Regions from separate parts of the Homo sapiens genome. Here regions 2, 3 and 4 are each linked to region 1. The links come from fine-mapping of genetic effects on gene expression. A gene starts in region 1. Each other region holds a variant in brackets. All regions are shown on one strand. Distances are from middle to middle.

Region 1 (2,500 bases):
TTTCTTTTTGACACAGGGTTTCACTAGGCGCCTAGGCTGGAGTGCAGTGGCGTGATCTCAGCTCACTGCAGCCTCGACTTCCTGAGCTCAAGCAGATCCTCCCACCTCAGCCTCCTGAGCAGCTGGGACTACAGGCGCTAAACACCACACCTGGCTAATTTTTGTATTTTTAGTAGAGATGGGGATTCGCCATGTTGCCCAGGCTGGTCTCAAACTCCTGCGCTCAAGTGATCCACCTGCCTCGGCCTCCAAGAGTACCGGGATTACAGGGGTGAGCCACTGCGTCCGGCCTTGAAAGATCTTCTAATGGTCCTCATAGTACTCCATTCTCCAGCATTTTCTACATCTGGCAAGCTCGAAAGTGAAACCCTAGTGGGCCATCATGCAGGTTTTGAGTTATTTACTGTTACAGATGAGGAAACTGCGAAGCTACATGGCCACAGTCAACAACGACAACAGAAGGCAACATAGTATGGCGGTTAAGAGCACCGACTCTGAAGCCAGCCTGAATCCTAGAGCCAGAGCTGTGCAACAGCAGGTAAATGACTTATCCTGTGCAGTTTCCTCCTTAATGGAAATAGTGCCCAGGCCACAATATCGCGAGATTTACACGTAAAGCTGGAAACAACTCCCGTCCTAGAGTAAGCACTGTTTACTATTAAGCAGCATCAGTAGGGCCCCTTTGCAACCTGCAAACCGCTCCCTCGACGTTACCTCATCTATGCCTCATTTCAGTGCCACTTCAGGCCTTTTCCAGGACAGTGAAAAACCACGAGACACAGCCAGTTAAGTCTGAGTCAGGACCCCTGTCCCACTAGTGCGCTGTGCTCTGGTGCGGCAGGGCAGTTTTCTGACCCAATCTCCTCTTCTGCTGTCCTCTGCAGCACCAAGATAACAATCACAGCCGGCCCCAACCGGCACCTACCGCGAAGGTCACAACTACACTCGCGGGTTTTTAAATCGCCCACTACTCACCAGTCCCGGAAACTTCTCTGCGTCACTTCCGGTCCCGCGTCGGCGCTCCGGATGCTGTGGCACTTGGCTCCCCGTAGCGGGAGAGCTGGGCGGAAGTGGTCCTTTCCGTTTGGCAGCCGAGTGTAAAGCATTGCTTGAGGTTGCCCAGGTAGTTTCGCCTTACACTTCTTGTCCCAGTGCAATTATTAGTAGAGCTCCCTTTCACTGTCAAATTTCCGGTTGGGGATAAATTGCATTGTCGTTTTGGTTTGAGATAGGAAGATGAGGGGAGGAAGGAGGTGAGGCGGTAAGGGGCGTTCTCTCTCTTGGGTCCCGCGCCCAACTTCCGCTGGCCCAAAGAAACTATAATTTTGAACCAACAGACCTCTGCTGGCATCTGCGATTGCATTTTTCCTGTTTTAACAACGGCTGTGCTAGACGAAGTGGTGAAGCCCAAGTATGGAGTAACGTCATTAATTCTTTCATTCACTTATTCGAATGCTTGCTGAGTTCTGTGTTGCTACTGGTTTAGTTCTTGGGATACTGCGAGTGAACAGTGGGCGGCGAGGCTGTTGTTGCAACGTCAGAGTAAAAGAAGGACCCTGCACGGCGGCCTCCCAGCACTTCGGGAGGCCGAGGCGGGCGGATCACCTGAAGTCAGGAGTTCGAGACCAGCCTGGCCAACACGGCGAAACCCCGTCTCTACTAAAAATACAAAAATTAGTCGTGCATGGTAGCGCGCGCCTGTAGTCCCACCTACTCGGGAGGCTGAGACACGACAATCACTTGAACCCGGGAGGCGGAGGCGGAGGTTGCAGTGAGCCGAGATCCTGCCGCACTGCACTCCAGCCTGGCGACATAGCGAGACTCCGTCTCAAAATGAAAAAAAAAGAGAAGTTCATAGTATATTAGTGATAAGTGCTGTGGTGGAAAAAAAAAAGTTCATAGTATATTAGTATAAGTGCTGTGGTGAAAAAAAAAAAAAGCGAATTTCATAGTATATTAGTGATAAGTGCTGTGGGAGAAGGAAATAGGAATGTCCTAGGGCTGAAGGGCTAAAGCAGTTCTGTGTAGGATTGTCAGGTCAGTTAAACTTGACATTTAAGCAGAAATTTGGAGGTGAGGAAATTAGCCGTAGAGATGTCTGAGTATAAGAATTCCAGGCAAAAGGGACACCCAATGCCTGGACCCTAAGGGAAGGTATCTGGGTTATTGGGGGACTTGCAAGGAGGCTCTTGAAGAAGAGCAAGCCGGGCAAGTAGGAGATTGGGAGGCTTGAATCGGGTAGGATATCTTCTATAGCCGGGTTTTTATTACCTAGGGGATGCCATTAGAGGATTTTTTTTTTTTTTTTTTTTGACGGAGTCTCGCGCTGTCACCCAGGCTGGAGTGCAGTGGCGCGATCTCAGCTCACTGCAGCCTCCGCCTCCTGGGTTCAAGTGATTCTCCTGCCGCAGCCTGCTGAGTAGCTAGGACTACAGGCGCCTGCCACCACACCCGGCTAATTTTTGTGTTTTTAGTAGAGACGGGGTTTCGCCATGTTGGC
Region 2 (2,764 bases), 370 kb before region 1:
GTAATTTAGCCATCTCTGTCAAAATATAAAATTCACATAAACTGGCCCACAATTTAACTTCCAAGAGTTTTTCCTACATTCACTTAAACAAGTATACTCAAAACCATATATAAGGCTATTCATGGTAGCATTCCTTGAAATAACGAAAGAGCAGAAACAACTGTTTATCAGCATTAGAAGATTTAGGCAAGCTATTAATCATATTCCAGGGAACTCTATTTGGCTACTAGAAAGAATAGGAAGATCAATGTGGTTGAGCCTGCGTGATCTACATAATGTATTGATCAGTACATATTTTGTGTATTCACAGAAGAGCTCTGACAAAAAATGCACAGGAAGTTCCTTCAGTAATGTTAAAGAAAAGCAGAATTACACACAGATGTGGGCGTGCAGTGTGAGAAGGCTGATGGGTGGAGGTGACAGTGAGAGCTGCTTTATTTCCCATACCTTGCTGCACAGTTTGTACTGTTTGAATTTTTACCATGTACATGTATGACTTATTCTAAAACATATACCTAGTTAAAATCTTTATTTAAAGATCCATTCTTATTCACATGCTGGAAAAGATCTAAACTAGATCTAACCCTGTTTAGTGCCATTAGGTCAACTGTCTTTACAATTTTTAATGCATTCTAACCTCTGTTAAAGTCTCATCTTACAGAATAAAACCAACCAAAGAATCAAATGAAAGCAGGACTTCCTTTCCCCCATCCCTCAATTATTTTTTTCTGAGGATAACAATGCTTAGTGTATTCATTTTAGACAATACAGAAAAGATAAAAAGGAAAATTAAAATTATGTATAATTCCACCATCCAAATATAAATGCCCAGTAATATTTTACTCTTTCCTACCAAATATTTTATGCATACACATTTTTCCTTATATTTGAACACATCATATTTCTGTAGTATAAGTGGATTTTTCCACTGGTAAGTACATCTTGTATTGTAAGTACTTTCCTGTCTTTAGTTTTTCTTCTACAGCATGGGTTTTAATATCTGTAAGGCACTTAATCTTAGAGATGGGCTATAATTTACATAGCCAGTTCCTGATTACATTTAGGATGACTTTAAAACGCAAATCTTTAAGAATACCTCTAATTATTTTCTTAGAATAATTTCCTAAAAGTAGTATTATGGTGTCAAAATGAATAAACCTTTTTGAGGCTCTTGTTACACATTCAATAGCATTTTCTGACAGTATATAATAAAAATCAATACAATCCAAGGCTGAGATGACATGAATTTGGATATAATAAGATTGG[C/T]GCATAGCTCCGTCCTCCATAGCCATCTCATCTCACTCATTTCATTACCTTTTCAACAACGTGACAATGCTTTTTAAGTGGTTTCCCCATCAAATCATAACTGACATTTAGAAGGGAAAATGCTAACGTGGCTTCTTCTCTGGCCTAGGTGTTCCAGGATACACTGTCAGATGATAGTCAGCCTTTTCTGTTTTTTGTTTTTTGCTTAAGTTACACATCCCTCTAGTCATAGTACCTAGAAAACAGTCACTTGCAAAGGATTTATGACACCATTAACAACGGGCCATCCAGCACTGTAAGGGGAGAGACATCGTGTGGCAGTTCTTGTTTTATGGGACCTAGATTTTCTGCACTAGCTTATGGGCTAGAAACTTTGTTAAGCTAGTATTTTTTAAACAATGTACTTGTATTTTTGGTTCCTAAAAACAGTAAAAGTAACACTTGTTTCATAGAGAAAGTACAGAGAAGTATAAAAAGAAAATAAAAATTACTTAAAAACTTGCCATTTGGAAGTAATTCTTTGGTCACATTTTGTGGCCTTTTCCCAATTTTTTTTCCACATGTATATATAACATATGTAAATTTGAATATGTTGCCATGTAATACATATATTTTATATAATCTCTGCTAAATAGTAAATGTATATAAGTCTATTTGTATTACATAAGTATATTTATTATTTTATATATTTATGCCCCAAAGTATTTAAATATAAATATGTGTTTATAATAATCATATAAATAAATGATATATAAATGTTTGTAATCTATATATCCATATAAACATAAAAATATTTTTTAACCTCATTTCACTAAAAGCCTCTGAAGAAACTACTATTACTGTCCCCATTTTTCTGTTGTGAAAAATCACGGCTTGGAAATAAGCTAGTAAGAGAGAGAGCCACAGCCAGATTTAAGTGTCTCACTCAAGGGCTTCAGTGACAGATCACAAAGATTTAGACGTCATTCTACTTGCAGCTGGAAGGCAGTGAAAGAATCTCATGAAGAAAAACATAAAATCATAACTTTTTTAGAGAACAACATTTCAAAAAATTTTATAATAACAAAGCCACAAAAACAGAAGTTCTTAACAAATCCACTATAGGAGAGGGGGTTAGAGCCTCACAAAGGAAGTGCTAGAATCTAGGCCCCAGCATCTCATTCCAGAGTCCCATTCTACCACTGTATTACATGTCACAATTAAACTGTAAATACATTCCATCTCATCACAATCATTCCAGTAATATTCTAGCAGCATCCTAGCTCTTGCAGTGATAACTAAAAAGCAAAACATGCATTTGCCATCGGAAGCAGAAACCTGCATCTCATCCGAAGCTTGAGAGAACCTGAAAGCCACTCGCTCTCAGGCCCAAACCCCTAACCGGCAGGTAGTATTGCCACTCCCTCCAATCCAGGCTGGCTGCCTCAGACTGCGGGCTGCCCCGGAACCTGACAGACATCCATTCTGCACGCACATGATGTCCATAACAGGGCGCTGC
Region 3 (2,764 bases), 170 kb before region 1:
GCTCCTTATCTTCTATACTGTATCTGCTGCTGACCGCCTAGTAGTGCTGTTAAGCTCTTCATTCAATAGACATGAATTAAGTGCTAACTATGTACTAGGTCCTGTTAAGAACCGGAAATGCAAATGCAAGTGAGGCATACTCCCTGCCCCAGAAAAGTTGTGGTTTAGTAAGAAGAACCCCCCCCCCCCCGCTTTTTTTTTAGACAGAGTTTTGCTGTTGTTGCCTAGGCTGGAGAGCAGTGGCGCAATCTCGGCTCACTGCAACCTCCGCCTCCCGGGTTCAAGTGATTCTCCACCTCAGCCTCCCAAGTAGCTGGGATTACAGGCATGTGCCACTACGCTGGCTAATTTTTGTATTTTTAGTAGAGACGGGGTTTCACCATGTTGGCCAGGCTGGTCTTCAACTTTTGACCTCAGGTGATCCACCCGCCTCGGCCTCCCAAAGTGCGAGGATTACAGGCATGAGCCACTGCACCCAGTCAATAAGAGGGCTCTTCAACCTGCACACAGGTCTTTGACAACATAAGATGTTGAGTACTATGGGCTGTTGTGACTATGATTCTGCCCACCCCATCAATTTATGAGGCTTAAGAGGGAGAAGGGGAGAGGCCTTCTTTGGAAGGGGAGTATTAATGGAAAGAAACTATTCCCTGCTCTGTGAGGGGAAAGGAAAGGGTTTTTTCCTTCCCAAAAGTCAAGATAAGGAGGTCCTGAAAGAGTCACTCTCTGTCATTAAGAAGAGAGATTTACATTTGCTCTTTGGTTGGGTATCTGCCTAGCCACCAATCTCACTTATATGCCCCTGTTCTACTGAAGAAGACATGGTAATGGAATGCCTGATACCAGGGCCAGGCATTCCCATCTATAACTTGGATTCCTGTTCTGAGAGGTATAAGAGATGGATTCTGCATATATCCTTAGGTCATTCTGAACAAGTCAGGAACTATATTCATCAGGGTTTTCCAGAGAAACAGAACCAATAAGGTTGTGTGTGATTTATTATAAGGTTTATTATAGGAATTGGCTTACACAATTTAGGAGGCTGACAAGTCCCGAGATCTGCAGGGTAGTTGGCAAGCTGGAGACTCAGGAGACCTGACTGTATAGTTCCAGTCAGACACAGTCCAAAGTCCTGAGAACCAGAGATAACATAGTAGCAGTCACTCAGGCTTGAGACTCTGAAGAGCTAATGTTTCAGTTTGAGTTTGAAGGCTGGAGAAAGCCAATGTCCTTAGGCAGGAGGAACTGACTCTCTACTTGGGGGAGGCTTAGCCTTTTTGTCTGTTCAGGCTTTCCACTGATTAAATGACATCCACCACATTAGGAAAGGCA[G/A]TCTGCTTTACTCAGTCTATAGATTTAAATGTTAATCTCATATGGAAACACCCAGAAAAATGTTTAGCTAAATATATGGAGATGAGATTGGAAACATTTTTATCCAGGGTAGAATGGAAGCTCTCTGACCAGAGAAAAGTGTCATGACATAGTGATAAGAAACAAATGTAATTCGATATGAAAATTTCTGTGATTTCTTTTTTTTTCTTGAGATGGGGTCTGGCCCTGTTTCCCAGGCTGGAGGCCAATGGTGCAATCTTGGATTACTGCAACCTCCACCTCCCAGGTTCAGGTGATTCTCATGCTTCACCTTCCTGGGTAGCTGGGACTACAGGCATGCGCCACGATGCCTGGCTAATTTTGTATTTTTAGTAGAGACGGGGTTTCACCATGTTGGCCAGGCTGGTCTCCTGACCTCAAGCGATCCACCCGCCTTGGCTTCCCAAAGTGCTGGGATTACAGGCGTGAGCCGCTGTGCTGGGCCTAATACCTGTGATTTCTATTGGTGACCAAATCACAAAAATATTATGGCTGGTTGTTTTATTGTTTTGCCTATACTCACAATCTAATGACATTATAAATGTTAGTTAGAGATTGGTAAAAAGTGATACAATTTTCTTCTTATCAAAGTTTATGAGTTTTATTATAGATCCCTGGGGGTCTGTGGACGCTATGTTGAGAACTTCTGTGTGAAGAGGAAGGAGAGGGCTTTGAATTGATGCAGGGTTGTATGCTATGGAAAAGATTCATAGAGGAGGCAACTGTTGGTCTGAGTGTTGGAAGAAGGGGAGGGTAGTTAGGATAGAGGGTAGTTGAAAGGCATTCCAGAGAGGAATGTAGCATAAGAAAATGTGTGAGGTGTGAGACAGCCTGGCATATTGTGAAATTGTAGATCAGCATTGGTGAGGGGAAGTCTGTGTTGAGCCAGGGTATAATTTCTATTCTTGCTGACAAGACCATTTTGTTCACGTGCCTGTTGAGCAAATACTGGTTACAAAGGCCATTTAGCCAAACCGATAGATCCATATCTTTGGTCTCTTCAGGTATAGTGAACAACGAGATACTGTTTGAAGTTTTGCCTACTGGGAGTTCCCTTTCTCCTGTCCTGTAGGGCTACTTCTCTGTAAGGTCAATGCCAGCAGACTGTATGCAACCATGTATAAACCAGGCCTAAGTTTTTTTTTTTCCTTCTTTCCTTTGATCTTAGGGAACTCTACAAGGCCATAGATTAAGGAAGAGTTGATTAGTAGAAGTAAGTGCCATGGGTGTCTCAGCCATTTGTTCTTCTAGCTTATTTGTGCTTTTGGAGCCTGCTCTAACCTCATTACAACCATTGTAGTCAGGATTACTTGGTTATGTAGTGGTAACAACCAACCTTCAAATAAAGGCTTAAAATTTGAAAAAGAGAGATTTGTTTCCTCTCATGTAAAAT
Region 4 (2,500 bases), 110 kb before region 1:
CAGCTAATTTTTGTATTTTTAGTAGAGATGGGGTTTCACTATGTTGGCCAGGCTGGTCTCGAACTCCTGACTGTATGATCCGCCTCGGCCTCCCAATGTGCTGGGATTACAGATGTGAGCCACTGCGCCCAGCCCTTCTATTTCTTTATAGTCTCTTTTTCATCCTAGTAGAGTTCCTTAGATGTCTGGCAACCTTTTTTCCCTCATGTTTAAGAATAGGGGAATAGGCTGGGTGCGGTGGCTCACGCCTGTAATCCCAGCACTTTGGGAGGCCGAGGCAGGCAGATCACCTGAGGTCAGGAGTTCGAGACCAGCCTGGCCAAAATAGTGAAACCCTGTCGCTACTAAAAATACAAAAAAAAATTAGCCAAGTGTAGTGGTGGGCACCTGTAATCCCAGCTACTTGGGAGGCTGAGGCAAGAGAATGGCTTGAACCTGGGAGGCGGAGGTTGCAGTGAGCCGAGATCATGCCATTATACTTCAGCCTGGGTGACAAGACCGAGACTCTGTCTCAAAAAAAAAAAAGTGGGGAGAGGGAATAAAAAATGAGAAGCTCTGACCATGTTAATATATGGCTGATTTGAGCTAGTATTGGTGCAAAAGTTATTGTGGTTTTGCCATTTAAAAAATTTTTTTTAAAGTTTTGCACCAACTTAGTAACTGACTATAAACTTCACCATAGGATCCCACTAGGCCATTCATTTGGAAAATTTCCCAAGTCCATATCTTTAAGTCTTTCTTCTTAGAGTGGTCAAATTCCCTAGAAACAACTCTTCTGGTATCTTAACTAGAGATCTTTTTGCTAGTATTTTGGTGGCAAACTGGCAATATCTAGGCAGGTATATTTCACTTCACTTAATCTTCCTATTTTCAGTTTGGCATCCACCCCCATCACAGCTAGGGCTCCCAGGTAGAAATTAGTTTTTATCCTTTCAGAGAATAAATCTCCATTCTTTTACCTAGATATATGGAGAAAGTGAAGGGATCTGAAAGTATGGCTGCTTCCAGATCAGACTTTCAGCTTGATTTTTAACTTTTCATTTTGAAATAACTTCAGACTTACAAAAAACATTGCTAAAATAGTACAAAGAGTTTCCATAAACCCTTCACCATTCATCTATGGGAAGCTTTTTAGAGGTACAACTTCCCTAGTTCCTACCCGAGGATTTAAGTGGGTCAACTGGGTTAAGACATAGAAGTGTATGTTTTTAAAAAGGTCTCTAAATAACTAATGTGCATCCAGATTTAGGAGCCACTTTCTTAGACATTATAAATGTTAGGAAAGCATTTATTTATTCATTCAACAAGTATTTATTAAACAATTATGTATTAGACACC[G/A]TGCTGGACACCAATGATAGAGATTAATAAATCAGGATCTCTGTTCTAAAGTTGCTTTATTACTAAACGGGTGAAAGAGACATAGAGGCGTAAAATTACAATTCAGTGGGATAAATGCTATGTTAGAGCTACAGAGGTAAGGGACTGGTTTACTTTAGCAGAGAGAATTAAGAAGGGCTTTATGGCTAAGGTAAAAATTTGATCTAGGACTTGAAATCTTATCAGGAATCACCCAAGTAAAAAAGCATATTCTATTAAGAAGGAGCAGCAAGCATTAAAGCAAGGGATTCTGAATGGTTACAGCATATTGTTGGAATGGTAAGAAGATTGATAAAGTGTGGTATATGTGGTTGGTAATGGAGAGAAATAAGGCTGGAGAGGAAGGATGAGGGTGGATTTTAAAGTACCTTGTAAGAAGGACTTTGATTTTAAAGGACCTTGTGATAAGTTTGGATTTTATTATGAAGTCAGTAGGAAGATGGTAGACTTATTCATAGGGGAGTCATCTGTTCAAGCATGATTGATTGATTGATTGATTTTTTGAGATGGAGTCTCACTCTGTTGCCCGGGCTGGAGTGCAGTGGCACAGTCTCGGCTCACTGCAACCTCCGCCTCCCGGGTTCAAGCAATTCTCCTGCCTCAGCCTTCTGAGTAGCTGGGACTACAGGCATGTGCCACCACACCTGCCTAATTTTTGTATTTTTAATAGAGACGGGGTTTCACCGTGTTAGCCAGGATGGTCTCGATCTTCTGACCTTGTGATCCACCCACTTCGGCCTCCCAAAGTGCTGGGATTACAGGCATGAGCCCCTGCACCTGGCCTGATTTATTTTTTAAAAACGGAAATATAGATGACAAGATGACAGCAAGGGTTATGATTTGTAATAAGGAGAATATAAACAGGGAAACCTTTGAGGAAGATGCTATATTGATTTGATTAAGAAATCATAAAGGTCAATATTAAGGCATTGTCATAACCAGTTGCTAGTAGAAGTAATTATTTGTAATCCTTTTAACCTTGCATTTGTTGTTTTTAGGTTTGAAGTCCTGAGTTTTCTCATGCTGTGTTATAATTCTGCTATTGTATATATGCCTGCCTCATCTTACCAATCTCTTTGTCGGATGGGTTCCAGGTGAGAAGAGTGATTATTACTAATCTTCA

The links. PIP is the estimated chance that this variant, and not a neighbour inherited with it, causes the effect. A credible set is the group of variants that fine-mapping cannot tell apart.
Region 2: its variant is the best candidate, but not a certain one, in a credible set for the expression of PPIL3 in stomach (GTEx, PIP 0.66).
Region 3: its variant is the best candidate, but not a certain one, in a credible set for the expression of PPIL3 in uterus (GTEx, PIP 0.51).
Region 4: its variant is the best candidate, but not a certain one, in a credible set for the expression of PPIL3 in fibroblasts (GTEx, PIP 0.69).

The regions. Positions count from the first base shown.
Region 1 is chr2:200,887,867-200,890,366 of GRCh38, reverse strand. PPIL3 (peptidylprolyl isomerase like 3) reads left to right here and starts at 1,290. Exons shown (of 7, transcript NM_130906.3): 1 at 1,290-1,411. NIF3L1 (NGG1 interacting factor 3 like 1) reads right to left here and starts at 996. Exons shown (of 7, transcript NM_001369441.2): 1 at 715-996. RefSeq lists enhancers at 213-462, 721-1,465, 1,353-1,602, 455-1,654, 1,723-1,772 and 1 more.
Region 2 is chr2:201,261,602-201,264,365 of GRCh38, reverse strand. All of the region lies in intron 1 of CASP8 (caspase 8), which reads right to left. Among named protein-coding and RNA genes, the nearest start is that of CASP8, 2.4 kb to the right of the region's middle. The variant C/T (reference allele first, on the strand shown) is at 1,267.
Region 3 is chr2:201,057,481-201,060,244 of GRCh38, reverse strand. The region is part of intron 1 of HYCC2 (hyccin PI4KA lipid kinase complex subunit 2); the gene reads left to right. Among named protein-coding and RNA genes, the nearest start is that of HYCC2, 13 kb to the left of the region's middle. The variant G/A (reference allele first, on the strand shown) is at 1,333.
Region 4 is chr2:200,997,416-200,999,915 of GRCh38, reverse strand. HYCC2 (hyccin PI4KA lipid kinase complex subunit 2) reads left to right here. Exons shown (of 13, transcript NM_001321623.1): 8 at 2,376-2,471. All of the region lies in intron 1 of LOC105373835 (a long non-coding RNA gene), which reads right to left. Among named protein-coding and RNA genes, the nearest start is that of ORC2, 35 kb to the right of the region's middle. The variant G/A (reference allele first, on the strand shown) is at 1,339.